Homo sapiens: one gene and its partner. The protein of the gene in region 2 purifies or fractionates together with the protein of the main gene of each other region. This does not show direct contact. Each region holds a gene or a part of one and is shown on either strand. Other genes may lie near its edges.

Evidence for each region.
Region 1: the proteins of CCDC198 (region 2) and AMPD2 purify together in Homo sapiens (affinity purification with mass spectrometry; 3 studies listed by BioGRID and IntAct, with this or other methods). This does not show direct contact.

The regions. Positions count from the first base shown.
Region 1 is NC_000001.11:109,622,107-109,629,836, reverse strand, and holds part of AMPD2 (AMP deaminase 2), read right to left. Parts: intron 5,809-7,730; exon of another isoform or gene 5,748-5,808; intron 4,535-5,747; coding exon 4,404-4,534; intron 4,176-4,403; coding exon 4,045-4,175; intron 3,678-4,044; coding exon 3,609-3,677; intron 3,519-3,608; coding exon 3,410-3,518; intron 3,112-3,409; coding exon 2,925-3,111; intron 2,663-2,924; coding exon 2,521-2,662; intron 2,409-2,520; coding exon 2,319-2,408; intron 2,064-2,318; coding exon 1,934-2,063; intron 1,755-1,933; coding exon 1,560-1,754; intron 1,474-1,559; coding exon 1,342-1,473; intron 1,195-1,341; coding exon 1,031-1,194; intron 729-1,030; coding exon 602-728; intron 511-601; coding exon 347-510; intron 42-346; coding exon 1-41. UniProt on the Homo sapiens protein: AMP deaminase plays a critical role in energy metabolism. Catalyzes the deamination of AMP to IMP and plays an important role in the purine nucleotide cycle.
Region 2 is NC_000014.9:57,476,166-57,484,626, forward strand, and holds part of CCDC198 (factor associated with metabolism and energy), read right to left. Parts: intron 7,020-8,461; exon of another isoform or gene 6,987-7,019; coding exon 6,900-6,986; intron 5,496-6,899; coding exon 5,394-5,495; intron 4,590-5,393; coding exon 4,430-4,589; intron 2,861-4,429; coding exon of another isoform or gene 2,844-2,860; exon of another isoform or gene 2,817-2,843; coding exon of another isoform or gene 2,764-2,816; exon of another isoform or gene 2,614-2,763; intron 1-2,613. UniProt on the Homo sapiens protein: May be involved in tuning the metabolism, energy expenditure, and excretion processes.

The sequences.
Region 1 (7,730 bases), on a different chromosome or scaffold from region 2:
CACAGTGTGGCCTCAGCACAAACGTGTGGAAGCCCCTCTGCCTGGGGGACATGAAGACAGTGTCAGCTCCTGAGCCTGGGATCACCTGGGCTCACCGGAGCCCCTGACCCCCACCCAGCACGCATATGTCCTCCAGCCAATAACTATGCAGGCCTGGGATAAGGGGGACAGGGGTAGATTACTGGCTGTGAGGGGTGACAGATGTAGCTCCAAGGGCAGAGAAAGAACCCATCCAGTCCAGGCAACAGGTGGGTCAGAGGTCTAGTGGCCCTGGCCCAAGGTGCCAAGAGTGAGGTTTGTTGGGCGAGAGATGGCATAGCAAGCAGACACAGGGTGGTGCAGGCACCTGCGCAGGTGGTTCAACATGGCCATGTTGGCAAAGGTGTAGTACAGGTAGTAGGCATAGGGTGGGTTGTCCTCCTCCACCCACGCCTCAGGCAGGGGGCTCTCCAGGTTGAAGACATGGTTTTCAGGCTTGGACTCATCATCCACGCTGTCAAAACCATCCACCTAATACAGAACCCTGGGGTCAGAACCAGAGCTGCAGCTGGATGCGAAGCCGGCTGCCCTCCCCATACCCAGCTCTGCGCTGCCTGCTCACGTGCTCTAAGAAGAGATGCAGTTCCGGGTGGCTGGCAGGGTGCACAGTGGCCTCGAACAGTGGCAGGAAGATGTTCTCCAGCATCTCCTGGAAGTTGGCCAGCTGGCCCTTGGTACGGTACACATCACTGCAGGTGAGACAACATGCAGGTATGTGCAAGTCAGGGCCAGTGGGAGGAAACCCAGCGGTCCAGCAAGGGTCAGAGCTTGGCCCAAGAGCGCAGGGGCGCATCTGAACCATATTGGGAAAGCAAGGATACCCAGGTGGGCCAGGCTGGACAGACCATGGATGGGACCAGGAAGCCCTTCCTTGCACTCAGAGGGGTTGGCAGGGACAAGGGAGGCTCAGCCATCCTAGGAGGGCAGGAGGCAGGCCCTGACCCCTTGAATATGACCCCGCAGGTTCCCCTCCCACTCCAGGGACACTCACAAGAGGCGGGGCACCTGCACCAGCCAGCGCACGTTGGGGGAGTGCACGCGGTGCATGACGGCCCAGCGCGCCAGCTTGTCCCACTCATCCCTCGAGCGCCCGTAAATGGAGAGCCGCAGCTCTGCATTCTGGTATTTGCTCTCCTCCAGGTCTGACATCACCTCCTAGACATGAGGTGAGCTGAGTCAGACATGAGGTGAGCTGAGTCAGAGCTCTTCAGGGGGTCATCTGCCTACCCTCCTTGAGTCTCACCCCCTAAAAGCCCCCAGATCCTCAGGCTCGAGGCTTGGCAGGGAAGGCTGCCTCCTTACCTTGATGATGTGAGCAAAGTACTTCCCAGATACCCTGTTGTCCGTCTTGATGAAGATCTCTCGGAGGACGGACTCCCCAATAGGGTTGTATTTGGCATTAAACTTGTCAAAGCGATGGAAAGTGTTCCTGTCCTGGGGGACATGGGAAGGCTCAGGTCACCCGTGACTCCTGGTCCCCTGACTGACTCAGTCCCACAGCCCACGCCACTGGCACAGACCGCATGCACATCCAGCGTGTCCACACTCAGGTCGTAGGCCGTGAGATTCATGCTCTCAAAGACCTCCCGCAGCGTCTGTTCACGGCCCTGCTCCACGTGCACGATCTCCTCCAGGTGCCGCTTCATTGCCCGCTTGATGAAGCGCAGCAGATGCTTCTGGTTCATGCAGGACGAGGCATGGATGTGGGTGTCCACCTGGAATGGAACAGGGCACTGCTGATCCACCAGAGGCCAGGAAGGTCTGGGGCCTGGGGCAGTGCAATGGGAAAGGACCCTCTGTACTGGATGCTGTGTGGGGGGCCTGGCCCTTGAAGGGGAGGCTGGGCAGAGGTGTGGGATGAGGACATGGAGACGGCCACGGGGTGAGGGCCCACCTTGCGGATGTTGTAGAAATCTCGGTGTGGCACTTTCTTCTGGGCGGCCAGCTCCTTCATCTCATTGAGTAGCACATGCATCTGGAACTTGGAGCTCAGGTACTGCAGCCGGCGGTAGCAGAATGACTTTCTGGGCATGAGGAGAACAAGGCAGGGACTTAGGCCCTGAAGGGAGGCACCTGGGGAGGGCTTGGGTAGCAGATCAGAGGGAGCAGGTGGGAGGGTAAGGATGGAGGCTGCCAAGAGGGAAGTAGACTGCGGGGAAGTCGAGGGCTCAGCAACTAGGAAGGGCAAGACACCAGGTGATGGGAGTCTGGGGCAGAACTGGGGCTGGAGAATCTGGGCTGGGAGGGGAGCTAAGTGTCTGGGATGGCAGGGGACTCACATGGGGCCATTGATAATCAGGGCCATCAGCACATTGACGTCAGCCACAAATTCCTGCAGGTCAGGGTATGGCAGCTCCACCTCTGAGCAACTGGCATGGAGGGGAGCTTGGGTGAGGAGAGCAAGCCGAGCCCTGTGGCCTCTCCCAAGCCAACGCAACCTCCCACGCTGCATCCCCCCAACATGCACCACACCCCTCTTACTGCTCGTCGGGTTCCCTGCGGGTGTAGACGTGCACCACACCCCGCACCATGCGCAGACCCAAGCCCAGGTCCCCAGGCATGGTGCTTGGCTCACAGTGCTCATACGGGTGCTGCTCCAGCGCAGGGGGGTGCACCGGGGCATCTGCAGGGGTGAGGAGGGTAAAGTCAGAGCAGGGCTCTTCCAAGCCACCCACTGCCCAACCCAAAGGCCCCACAGAGGGCAAGAGATGTTGAAGACCCAGTAGGTCAGACAGCTCCTGCCCAACCTCCACCCCTGTACCCCAAGAGGTTGGAATGAGCCTGGGTTGTAGGGAGAGGCAGGCAGGGCAGAGGTGCCCAGGCACCAGGCTGAGAAGCCCAGGAGGCTAGGGCACATGGCATGGGGCAGAGATGGGGAGTCCCACCAGCAGACACAGGGGTGTCGGGGCCCTGTTCATAGGTCCGGGTCTCCAGAGGCTTTTCAGCCAGCTGCTGCAGGTAGCGGCGGGTGGTGGGGCAGAAGCTCTGCAGGGACAGGGCCATGTACTTCTCCCGGATGAAGAGCGCCCGCACCACACTCTTGGCTGCATCCAGCAGGTCTGTGAACGGCACCTGGAGATGAGGATATGCGATCACTCTCCTCAGTCTTGGACTCAGAGACCTCCTCCCTAAGGCCTTATCTTAGAACCCAAACTATCCCCACCTCCCACAGGCCCTGACCCCCAGGAACACTCAGATCACCCTGGTCCAGCACATCAAGTGGCTCCTAGGCAGCCCCTCTGCCCCTCCGCCCCTCCAGCTGCTGGAAAGAGAAACGCCCTTTCCAGCCCCCACCCCCAGCTCTCCAGGCTGGGGGAACCCACTAAGACATAGGTGATGGCGACTCACCCAACATACACCCCATACTTACCCCACACTTCTCCTCCCCAGAGATGGTGACCCGCTGAAACTCCCGTTCCAGCACATCACGCTCCCGCAGGCTCCGGTCACCCTGCCCCTCACCCTGTTCCTTGTAGAGCCTGCAGGGGGTGCATTCAAGGGAGGGGTTTAGAGCCGGCAGAAGGGCAGGCTGCAGCTCCGCATCCCCTGTGCCCCTCTGCCCTCCTCACTGTAGGTCCGAGTCACTGTCCGTCTTCAGGAAATCTTGCTTGGCCCGAAGCAGGATGTCTGGCTCCAGCCTAGAGGCAAGAGGGGTGAGAAGTCAGGCAGATCCCGAGGGACGGCCCTTGCTCCCAGGTCCCAGCACCGCACTAGGTGCTGTGCACATGTTGTCACATGTGATCCTCAAAGGCAGAGCTGCAGAACCCTGTGCTGTTCTCACTCACTTTAGAGATGAGAAAGCAGACCCATAAGTTAAGCAACATGACCCAGCCACACCGGCGGCTAGAAGACAGAACAGAACCCAGCAGCCCGACTCCAAAGCCCACTCTATGCTCCCTGTGCAGACCCCCCAAGGCAGGGTGCGAGGGAAAGAGGCAGAAAAGGGGCTCTGAAAGGGTCTGGAAGGGTATGGAGGGAGACTAAGCAGCTGCCTGCCGGGCTCACTTGACATCCTGGCTGATCTGCCGCTCCAGCCGCTGCCGCCGCTCCTCCAGCTGTTCAATGGGGCTCTCCTCGGGGAACTCATACGGGGCACTACGGAGCTCGCTCTCAGCCAGTGAGCGGGTGAACAGCTCCTGGGGGGAGGGAAGGAAGGTCAGCATGGCTGGCCCTCCGCCCTCGGGCACTCTCCTACAGAGTCTGGGGATGGGGTGAGGGCAGCAGGACCAGGGGTACCTGGGAGAGGCTGAGGATCAGGAGACAGCCAAGCGTGAGGTGAGGGGACAGCTTGAGGTGAGGGGTGTGGGGAGCAGAGGCAGGGCATGGAGACACGGGGTGAGGGTGCGGGTGGTGCCAGGTGATACCTCGGCGATCTCCTTGCATTTGCCATCCATAGACGTGCGCAGGTCGAGCGGGAAGTGCTTGAGGCAGGGGGCGGGGCCCGGCAGGGATCGGGCAGACTGCAGCGGAGGGGCCCCCAGACCACCCCGAGCCTCTGCAGAGACAGTGATGCCAGGGTCAAAGGGTGGAGGGGCAGCCCCTGAAAGCCCTGGGCCCCTGCCCTGCCTAGGCCAGCTCCCGAGAGAGCCCAGGGTCGGGAAAGAGGGCAGTCCCTCCTCAGTAGCTGAGGAGTAGGCCTGTGTGTGTGGCTCCCAAAGGGCTCACCCTCACCTCTAACGCAGGGACCCCTCACCCATTCCAGGCTTGGGGTGGGGATTCTGAGTCTGCCCCTAGAACAAGTAGATTCATTACCTCCACAAATGAGACTAGAGCCTGATCCCTCAGGCCATGAGAATCTCCACGTGACTACCTCCCAGAGGCAGGTGCACGTGTGTACGTGTGCACACACATGCACGTACGCACACAGACACCCTCAGAGACACACACCAGGTGCTTGGTAAGGACCAGGCGGCCACACCAGGGACCCCCAGCCTGCAGCTCCCAGGGCAGGCAACCCAGGATCAGACCCGCCCCTGGACTAGCAGATTCTCCACTCAAAGGGGCAGGGCCCTGTGCCTGACATCCTAGACCTGTGCAGCACAAGAGAAGCCGCAGCTGCTGCTCAGCTCTGACCTAGGGACGAGCCCTCAAGGGAAGAGGAGAGGAAGTGGAGGGCCTGGTTGGCAAGGGAACCCTACCTCCTCCCTGGAGGCCCGCCCTGTCCCCCAGGGCCCCAGGGCTGCCAAAATGTGGCCTGGCCTTAGCCTGCCCCTCCAAAAGGAGCTGCCACAAACAGTCTATGCCACTCAGGCCCCAGGATCTGGACCGGGGGCACCACAGAGGGCCCTGGGGAAGGGAGTGTCAGAAGCCAGGGGTCTTTCTTCATCAAGACTAGACTTTCCATCTGTACCACGAGGAGGCTGGCACCAGAGGGCCGTGAAGCTGCTGGTCTATGGGGGCTGCCAAGGCTTCCAGCCTACCCCGAAGGACCCTCCCTGGGCTCAGCAGCCCCAGCTCCTCAGTGAGAAGCTTTCCACACCCAAACTGCCTCTCTCAGCCGGCTGTAAGGAGTGCTCCCCTCCAGCACCCTCCACCCTGGCTTAGGGAAGGATTACAGGATCTGCCTAGGTAGCCGGCCTTAAAGTCTCTGCGCCCATTTCCCAATACTCCAGGACTGGTCCCAAAGCTGGACAAAGGGAAGAGGGAGGGGCCTGCCCCAGATCCAGGACCCCGTCCCCTGCGCACCCCGGCCCCTGCCTGAACCCTACCTGCAGAGTGCAGGCAGCTCCGGCCAGCAGCCCTGTGCCCCTTGCCCGCCTGTTTGCCAGTGAAGCTGCAGCCGGTCCCTCAGGGGCTGGCACAGGCTGTACCAAGTGCAGCTGCAAGCAGGGGAGACCCTGAGATGGCCGTGAGCACGGAGCTAGGGGAGTTCAAGGGAGCCCAGAAACCAAGGGAAGGAGCATCAGAGTTGGGAGATAAGACGAACTCCAGAACTGAAGAGGGCCTCCACCTCTACAGTGCCAGGGAAGACCCAGCCAGATGTGAGGCTCCTAAGGGGGAGTAGCAGGGTAGGCTGACTTGGGCAGGGCAGGCCGACAGGGAGGAGCCAAGCCTCCTTAAAATCCACTGCCCTAGGGGACAGTGAGTGGGCAGGGCCTGGCTGGCCAAAGAGTAAGAGGGGAGAAAAAGGAGGGGAACAGCGCTCTTCATCACACCCACAGCCCCAGGTTGGCCTCTTCTGGCAGTGGCCTTGTTGCTCACCACTGTCCTCTGGGCCCTGATTATGGCATCCCTCAGGAGAGACAGGGCCTTTGCTGGGGTAGGAGCTGGCTGGCAGCTGGGGAAATGGCCCAGTCTAGGTAGGGGCCAGTCACTGAGGCTTCCCCGCTGCCCAGCTGCTCAGGGGGCTGGTTCGCAGGCCCCTAGACCTGCAACCCCTGATCCAAGCCTATCATCAGGGACAGGACAAACTGTCCAGAATAAGTTTGGGAGAAAGGGGGCTAGAATTTGGAGAACATGGATCTGATTCTGTTCCTGCTTCCGGGCATGTCTCTACCTACCTCTGGGAGGCTTTGGGTCCTCATCTACAAGTGGGGCGATAAGTGGTCCCTTCCCTGCCTAGCCACAACTGCCATAAGGCTCACAGAGATAATGGCTCTGCAAGTGTTCTGCAAAACACCAGGCTCTGTGTTGAGGCAAGGCCTGCAATTATGAACTCCTGGGACCCTCAAAATACATTCTACCTGTAGCCCCGCCCACTGAGGACAGTGGGAGGTTCCCTGGGCCCAGTGCAGGGCAAAGGCAATAGGCCAGTAAAGGGCAGTGAAGTGAACTTGGCAGGAGTGGAGATGGGGTGACTCTATCTCTTACTTGGAAAAGGACAAAGTGGGAAGAGGAAGAAAAGAGGGGAAGCTGTCTCACCCCCAGAGTGTAAGATCTTTTCTTGCCCGAGAACCCTGATTTTACACACCTCCTCCCTACATATGGCCCCAGACCACTTCTGACTCCTTCTAGGGGAGGCCGACCACAGACCTCCATGGCTGGTTCATATTGGGTCAGCAGGAGTTGAGTCAAAGGCTCAAATCTCAACCCCCTCTCCTAGCAGGGGGGTCTCAGGCTCCACAGCAATCCTGGGGTGAGCAGGACAGATTCCAACAGCCAGTGCCATCCCCCCAGCCTGCCAGACCACTCTCCAGGGCTGCCGCAGGCTCACTGAAGGTGGCACACGGGCAGTAACCGCTACGTTCTCAGAGGCCAGGCCTAGAAGACTCAGCTGCCTACTGGTCCTTTCTCTAGGGGTCAGCACCACACACATACACCCACACTTACGGAGAAGTCAAGCAAAAGCCAGAGTGGGCTGCTCCAGAGCCACTCCCACCAACTCTGAGATTCTGAGCACCCCATCTCCCCTCTCGACCAGGAGCCCCTCACACACTGCCACGACTGCCTCAGTAGGCACAGGGGTGTCCACGGCTTTGACCCCACAAGTATCAGATGCTCTTACCATCTGACCACCGAAGGGTCTCCAGCTCTGGGCTAGATCCGTATCAGTTGCCCTATTGCTGAACCAAACAGGGCCAGGAAGGGCCCCACCCAGGGGACACCCTTTCTGGATGGCACAGACCTGGGCACAGAGAACACCCTCAGGACAGTAGAGACCTTGCACCAGTCATCTTCAATGAAACAAAAAAATATAGGAGGTTGATACTTGGGCTATAGCTACAGACAGCTGCAAGGGTGGGGGCAGTCGG
Region 2 (8,461 bases):
CATGGTATACAATAACTTTATTCCCATTTTACAGATGTGGAAACTGAGGTTCCTGGAGGTTAAATAACTAGAATTTAGCTATATTCTTTCTCTCTCTAGAATAAAATTATATAGAAAAATATACAGTTAATATTTATTGAGAGGCTATCATGTGTCAGGTACTATTCTAGGGACAAGAAAAGGTCCCTGCCTTCATGGAGCTTCCATTTAGTAGATGCACTACTGGGACTCAGGGAAGGGCTTTGAGGTCAGTTCCGGTGCTCTTCCCACCCTCTGTGTTCATTCATGTCACAGCTTCAGCAAAGGGTAGGAGCCACAGAAACACATTAAATCTCATAGACTTGTACACCAAAAAGAGTGACATTCACTATGTGTACATTATATATCATTTGTGTCATATGATTGTATATGTAATTTATTATAGGAATGTATGTAAAATACATGTAAAGCGTGGGAGATTTCATTTTAAAGATGCAGTAGAAAGCAGCAACTGACTTTTATCTCACAAGAGAGCCACAACCCTCATTTCACCTTTCAACAGGGGAACAAGAATGGGCCAGTATGTCATTAAGAGGAGACTGCTACAGAGGAACCTTAATGACCAGACCCTGATAGTAGAATGCTTAATGACCAGACCCTGATAGTAGAATGCTTATGTAAGTGTAAGATCTTAGCTACACTCCATTTGTAGGAGAAAGCGAACTACTTTTAGAAGGCGTGGAAAGAAATCAAAGATGCTCTCTGGGAATAAGCAAAAAGGAATCATCGCTAGGACAAATGCCGAGCACAGAGGTGAAGGCTGTCGCCTCAGGAGTCAGGTGCCCCGTGAGTGCACGCCTGAGCAGCTTCACCTCTCACTGGCTGGCTGTGACCTTGCATATGTGACTGGACCTCTCTGGACCCAGACTCTTCATCTGTAGAAGAGAGGTGGTAATAATTTTCACCTTGTAGAGTTAATATGAAGATTAAATGCTGCATTTAAAATTCTTAGAAGCACTTGTAAATACTAGCTGTATCCATTATTATCCCAGTATCCTATACTTTTACATGTACAGGGCTGCACAGTGAACACTGCAGCACAGAACAGAATGATATCCTTTGGAGGCATTGTAATCTCTCTATCATCAAACAAATTTCCAGTGATATTTGCTTTACTTCTCTTTCCAACAACTTCAGCAATAGGCAAGTGAGTTGATGCAGACATGTTATTCTAAAAGTCTAGTTAATTATGATATCATTATAATAGGAAGAGTTAGAATTCCCTCTCTATTTCATGCTAGCAAAATCTACATTTTCTAGGCTCATTTTGTCACGTGTATCTCACACACACACACACACACGTACAGGAGTTGTTACAAAGAAAAAGATTCTCATACGGTTAAAGTGTTGAAAGAGTTCTCAAGGGTTATCTAGTCCATCTAAGTTTGGTTAATGTTCAAAATCACTTGAGGAACTTTTAAAATGTAAAATTCTTTCACCATCAACCTAGAGATTCAGATTCGGTAGGATGAAGCTGGGAGACAGGACTGGGTGTTTCTTTTGTTTGTTTTGAGATGGAGTCTTGCTGTGTCGCCCAGGTTGGAGTGCAGTGGCATGATCTCGGCTCACTGCAACCTCTGCTTACTGGGTTCAAGCGATTCTCTTGCCTCAGCCTCCCGAGTAGCTGGTATTACAGATGCCTGCCACTGTGCCCGACTAATTTTTGTATTTGTAGTAGAGACGGGGTTTCACCATGTTGGCCAAGCTGATCTCGAACCCCTGACCTCAGGTGATCTACCCACCTTTGCCTCCCAAAGTGCTGGGATTACAGGCATGACTGGGTGTTCTTGAGAAGCTCCTCAGGTGGTTCTGCTCATAACTGAGCTTTTGTGCACTACTGATGCAGCTACACCTCCCTGACTGGCACTTGAATTGGTTCCTGCCTGAGTTACTCCTTCTATTCTCCCTTCTCTACACTCCATCACTTCCAGGAGAACATGAGCTCCAAAGTCTGCCAGCTGCTTTAACTTTCCTTTCAGAAGTCGCAGAGTGCAGCCTTCTTTGTAAATAAGGTCAAGGACTCACAACCCCCACATTTGCAAACTTTTCCAAAGCTGTCCTTGACAGAGTTCCAAGTCCTTGGTGTCCTGGTGGGGCTGTGTGAGAGTGCAAGTCAAGAAGACCTGACCTTGAATTCTGGCTCTATCACCCTGGGGCGAATAGTAGCTCCTACCTTCTAGGTTGTGTGAGAATTAAAAGAGATAATGCATATTAAAGGCAAACCACAGTACCTGGCTTATAGTAAGCACTCAACAAACCTTAGCTTGAACAAAACGAAGCAGCTTTAAAAAGCATCAGGAGAGCAGAGGAAAACCCCTTTCTCCATGTGCCAGTTTCTCCTTGGTCCCCTCCAGGTCTGAGACATCTTCCAGGGACTTTGCCAATGCTGGTTTTTCTTGGCGTGCTCTCAAGTGATGACTCTTAAATGTCTAACTTTAGGTGAGGTTTTTTTCTTGGTTGTTTTGTGTATATTTTTTAAGGTACGGTTTAAATGGTAAAAATTGTTTATGTGACTACAAAGGATATTTCATTCTGAGACTTGGAAGTATAGGTTAAATAGATGCCCCAAGTAGATTTTCAATTATTCAGCCTTTTCTTATTTAATTAACTTATTGATCGAGCGTCTTGTTTCTCCAAGTAGGAGCAGTGTCTCTTTCAGCAGGCAATTTTGCGTCTTAGAAGTTCAAGACCTCCAGAGACATAGCCAGCTTTTCTGCAGCTCTCTCAGCGGTGGGTCAGTCCTGCTGATGTGGGGATTTGGCCCACGGCACAGCGATCTGTGTGTGTGAACAATATTGGAAATTTCAACTGTGGGTTTGCCCTGGGGAAATACAAACAAGGAAAACTTAATGGGGCTCTAATTGGTGGGGCAATGTAGCGTAGAAGTTGTAGACAAGCCTGTCCATTAGAAAGCATAGAGCGATCTGAGAGCATAAACAATTTGGCCTGGCTGAAATGTGGGGGCTGGGTGCGAGAGTGGCAGAAGATGAAGCTAGAAAGGCTAGGTAGGCAATGACTAGATCCTGAATGGCTTAGGATCCCATGTTGAGTTTATTTTATTTTATTGAGACAGAGGCCTTGTTATGTTGGCCAGGCTAGGTTTTGAAATCCTGGCCTCAGGTTGTCCTCCCACCTCAGCCTTTTGAGTAGCTGGGACTACGGGCATGAGTCACCACACTTAGCTCCATGTTAAGGAGTTTAGATGTTGTTTTTAAGCTGACAAGAATCCTGCTTGTTTTTCTAAGCAGGAGAGTGACATGGTCAGATTTGCATTTTATGAGATTACTCTGATGTTAGTGCAGTGCTTCTAGAACTTCAGTGTGCATGAGAATCATCTGGCAATCTTGATAAAATGCAGGTTCTCATTCAGTAGGTCTGGGGTATGACCTCCATTTTTGCCTTTTGTAATAAACTCCCAGGTGATACTGATGATGCTTGTATGTGGTAATACTTTAATTACCGAGTAGAGTTAAGAATCACTTAAAGTTAAGTGTTTCTTAAACTTTAAGGGAATCACAATAACCTGGAGGGGTGGTTAAACCCAGAGTACTGGGCATAACCCCTGCAGTTTTTGATTCAGTTACTCTGGCTGGGGCCCTAACAGGTTCCCAGGTGATGCTGATGCTGGTGGTCTGGTGACCACATGGAGAACCACTGAAGTGAATCATTGATGGATGGACAGTAAGACCTAATGGGAGGGGCCAAGTCAGGAGGCTGTAGCTGGAGCCCTGGTGTAACAGGACCAGGGCTATACCTAAGGCAATACTACTGGGAATGGAAGAGAAAGGGCAGATTTTACTGCTAGGTGATATCAGCAGGGCTTGGTGACCGACCAGCTGTAGGGAGATAGGGAAGAGTGACATTGGAGGCCTGGTTCACTGAGCCAGTAGATCAGCAGGAACAGCAAGCTTAGGTTGGGCAGTGATTCATTCTAGAAATTCTGAATGTGCCAAAGAGAGTTGACCTCCACAGAAAAGGGTGCAGTCAGGAAGATAAGTGTCTGCATATGGTACCAACTCTGCTGAAGCAAATTTGCCATGTGACTGCCGGCAATATATCTTCATATGCTTCATTCTCTCTAACCACAAGATGAGGCTATTTTGCCTTTTCTGCTTCTAGGGATGAGGCAAGACTTGCAATGAAGCATGCAAAGCATATTAAACCCATACAAAGAAAGAGACATTTAATTACCAAGCTTAAGCTTCTGTCTTTTCCTCCCAGCCATCCAAAATTACATGACAACATGCCCACTATATTCTGGGAAGTAAAAATCTCAGCAAGAGCTCAAAGCTGTTTGCTGTCTTCTCATCATGTCCCTCCCTTGGTAGTTTATTTGATGAAGTTTTAAAAACACTTGAAATGTTTTACTAAAAAATTGTACATGACTCACCGGGACCTCTGTTCAAGATTTCATCAGGCAACATGGTTAGAAGGTCATGGTCATCATTCCTTGGGGTGCTTTGAAGGGTTTTCTTGGCTTTATGGTCCCTTGGACTTTGCTTATTAATTCTTGCCTCTCCATGAAGACTTTTCTTTAACTCCATTTGGGCCTGAAAATCATCAACTATAAATGATCAATGTTCTTCCCAAGCTACTTTCACCAGACTAGATCAACAGATCAGCCACTTTGCAAGTTGTGTGCTTATCTGTAGACATCTGCAGTCCTCTAACCAGAACATGGTTTTCTTTTTCCTATTAGAAGGTATGGGAACTTTATTTATTGACAGGCTTGTTAAGAGAAAGGTGAGTGCACCCAGTCTCAAAAAGGTATGGCTCAATTAAGATGAGGACCTTTACAAAAGTGTGTTTCTGTCAGCTAGCTGATATGATTGGAGTTCCAGAGAGCAGTAACTAAAGGCTCATTTCCTAGAGGGAGGAATTTGGAACATGACAGTTACAGGCATTACTGGTAAAGGGTTTTTTTGTTTGTTTGGTTGGTTGGTTGTTTTTTTTACAAGAGGTCTTTCTTGTTAGATAATTCTATGGCAAGAATTATAGAGAGAGGCCTAGGTATCAGAATAAAGAACAACTCACCCCCTCCTCCTTTCACTAAACCAAGAAAAATGATCTAGCCCCATTTTCCTATGTCCAGAATGTCATAGGAGCAAACTGTTTTTAAAAATGGAGACTTGCGACACAGATACACAGATACAAACTTAGAAAAGACTCAACAAGGTTATCAGCAGAAGGAATCTTCCTGATTCTTCTCAGCTTTAGTAGTTGAACCTTCAACCTCAATGACGAAATTTAAAATGCTAAGTAAAGACTGGCTATCTATGCTTGATATATTCATGTGGCAGGGCAGTGATTATGTGATGAAAATTTGGTAAATATGACACTCTTCTCGTATTTACCTCTTGTCTTTTACGGATCATTTCCAGCACTTGCATCTTATGCAAATATTGTCTGTTCTCAGAAGTATACATTGGAGTTTGCATTTTCTTTTCTAGTACCTGCTATGAAAGACAACACACTTGTTAGTATGGGGTAATTTGTTACTGACTCTGCAATTCACAAGTTTAGATCCTTTTTGAAACAGAGTCAGATCTTAATCAGTCATAACCTGTAGAGATATCTTGTGATGACAAAAGTGGACTATCGTGTGTCCCTGACAAGTCCTTTGTGTCACTATCAATGAATGAAGTGGCTCTTTGATGTGTATATATGTAGTTTTTTAGGTTGCTATAGAGTTTTGTAAACCTTAAATGGGAATATCTTTCCACATCTCATTTTTGGCAAGATATCACTTCCTTTGTAAACAGATGCTTATTACCACCTCTCCAGAATTGTGTTCTGGTTTGAGGAAACCTTTCTTTTTCTCCCTGCCTCTTTTACCATTGAGTAATTGGCTGGCTATGAAATGAGAGGGAAGCTGCTGAATGGTGAAATGGAACCTATTTCTATAGAGTGCATTTCCATATGCCAGCATAAGCCTTGGAGAATATTGCAGTTTAGGGAGGATTTGAAGTTGATTATTTGTGACTCTGAACATCTCCCCGCCAGTGCATCATAAACTCCAGTGGGACAGTGCAGACGGTTATTGAGGGCAGCCAGAGGTCAATATACCTTCATTTGTCATTTGCTGTTGCCAGGAAAGATGATGTGTTTGACAATACCTTTTGTGTTGCTGTGTGGATAGTGACTGTCAGCTGATGTGAACCTCAGGGAGGGGCCATCTCCACAGATGCTGTCAGCACCACAAACGTGGGCTTGAGGATGTGACAGCACCTGGACATCTTTGTCAAGTCAGCCAGCCACACAGCAGCACCTAGCAAGCTCCAAAACAAATTAGGAGTGGAAAGTGTTGAAAATCTGCTTCTACCTCTAAGCTTTCATTTCTATGTGAGGGGAGTTCTAGTCAACAGAACATTATAAGTGCATAGCAGGGAAAAGATACACAGAAGACATTTCCCAGGATTAATTTTTGGTGAGGTTGTGTCAAATAAGTCAGGAATAACTTGTAGATAAGATTTCTCCTGCAAACTGAGAATAAAAAGTTTTAAACTGAGGGGAGGAATGAAAGGGAGGACTTATGCTGAATTTTTCACAGATTTGAAAACTTCAGAATCACCAATTTCTAAGTAAAAGTCTTTTCTCATCTACATTGCCCTGGTTTTCAACACAAAGCAGAAAAGGGTGCAGAGCTCATGCAAGAGGTAATAGCCACTGCCAGTTGGAGGCATGCACAGAAGAGAATAAATAGCTTTGAAAAGTTCTCACTCTGAATGACTTAACAGTTTGATTTGTCTTTGAACTCCTCCATGCAGAGAGTGCATGAAAGGACCAGTGTGCTCCAGTGCCCCAATCCTGTGTCGCCCACCCCCAGTTCACCTCCCTGTCAGGTTACTGCTGCAGCTCACCTTTGCTTTGTGCATTGTCCTGGCTTCTCGCTGGCTCAGGAGTCTTCCTGAAGTAATTACTCGTGGCAAGTCAATGGGTTCAAGCTTCTAGAAGTTCAACGTTTAGAGCAGTCAGCATTCCTCATGCCATGAGATGATGAAACAGAAAAGCCAGACATTAAATTATCTTAACACTTTGCAAAAGCGGCACTTATTTCTGAGAGCATACAGGAAAGGTGATTCTAACAGCATTACAGTTATATTGGTACAAAGGGCTTTTCAACCTATCTGGGTTCTTTATTATTCTAGTGCACTGTCGACAGTGCCTTATTGATCTAAGTGTTGGTCAGAGAGTTAGGAGACTAAGATACTCTTCTGTCTGCATTAAGGGACCATGTCCAAAGTTATCAAACCACCAGGATCTTAGAATATTAGAGATAAAAGAGGCGCTAGGAATTTATTTTATTTCACACATCCCTTAGGTACCCAGCTGAACTATTCCAGCCCTTAGGGAAGCAATCTGTTTTTAAGATCTCTAGAGAAGCTCCTTAGTAGTAATCACTGGTGATTATGAGACACATTTAAAATGAAACTGCAGTGTGCTAACACATTTTAGAGATGTCCTTTTCTAGCAGGGGCTTGGCTTGATAGGGGAGATCATGTTGGCATTTCAGGGGGTCACTAAGACTGGGCAGCAATTCATGTCAACCGGTCTGCCTCCAGCCGGATCTTGATCACTGAGAAGTGATCAAGCAGGTTTGGGAGACAAAGTCTGGTCTCTTGACATTGACATGCAATGGGGAACGTGGAGGGCCACAGAGTTTATGTGTTCCTTCAGTGACTACTTAATGACTGCTACATGCCAGACATGGGGATGCAACGGTCACCAAAAGTGGATGTGGCCCCTCATGGAGCTTACAATCTATGCATAATAGATGTACATTTGCTTGTGTGATTATTCAAGTGATAATTACACTGCAGGGCAGAAAAAACCTGCAGGGCAGAAAAAATCTGCAGGGCAGAACTATGACACTACATAACTGAAGGACTCCACCTGAAAAACAGGGTGTGTTAGGGGTTGAATTGTGCCTCCCCACAAAATTCATATGTTGAAGCCCTAGCCCTCCATACCTCAGAATCGGAACTTATTTGGAAATAGGGTCATTGCAGATATAATTAGTTAAGATGAAGTCATGCTGGAGTAGGGCAAGCCCCTAATTCAATATGATAACGTCCTCATTAAAAAGGGGAAATCTGGACACAGACACACACACAGGCAGGACACGATGTGAAGATGAAGAGAGAGGTTGGGGCGATGGTTCTTCAAGCCAATGAACAGCACCCAAGAGTGCCAGAAAACTACCTAAAGCTAGGAGAGAGTCGTGGAACAGATCTTCCTCACAGGCCTCACAGGGAACCAACCCTATGGACACCTTGATCTCAGTCTTCTAGCAAACTAAGGCAGGAGGGAAAGGGCTAGGGAGGCAGTTCAAGAAAGTGCCTTAAGGTAGTACCTTTTTAGTAGAAATTGGAAGATTGGGAGTTTTTAAGGGACTAAGTTGTGCCATAGCCCTGAGGTGGGG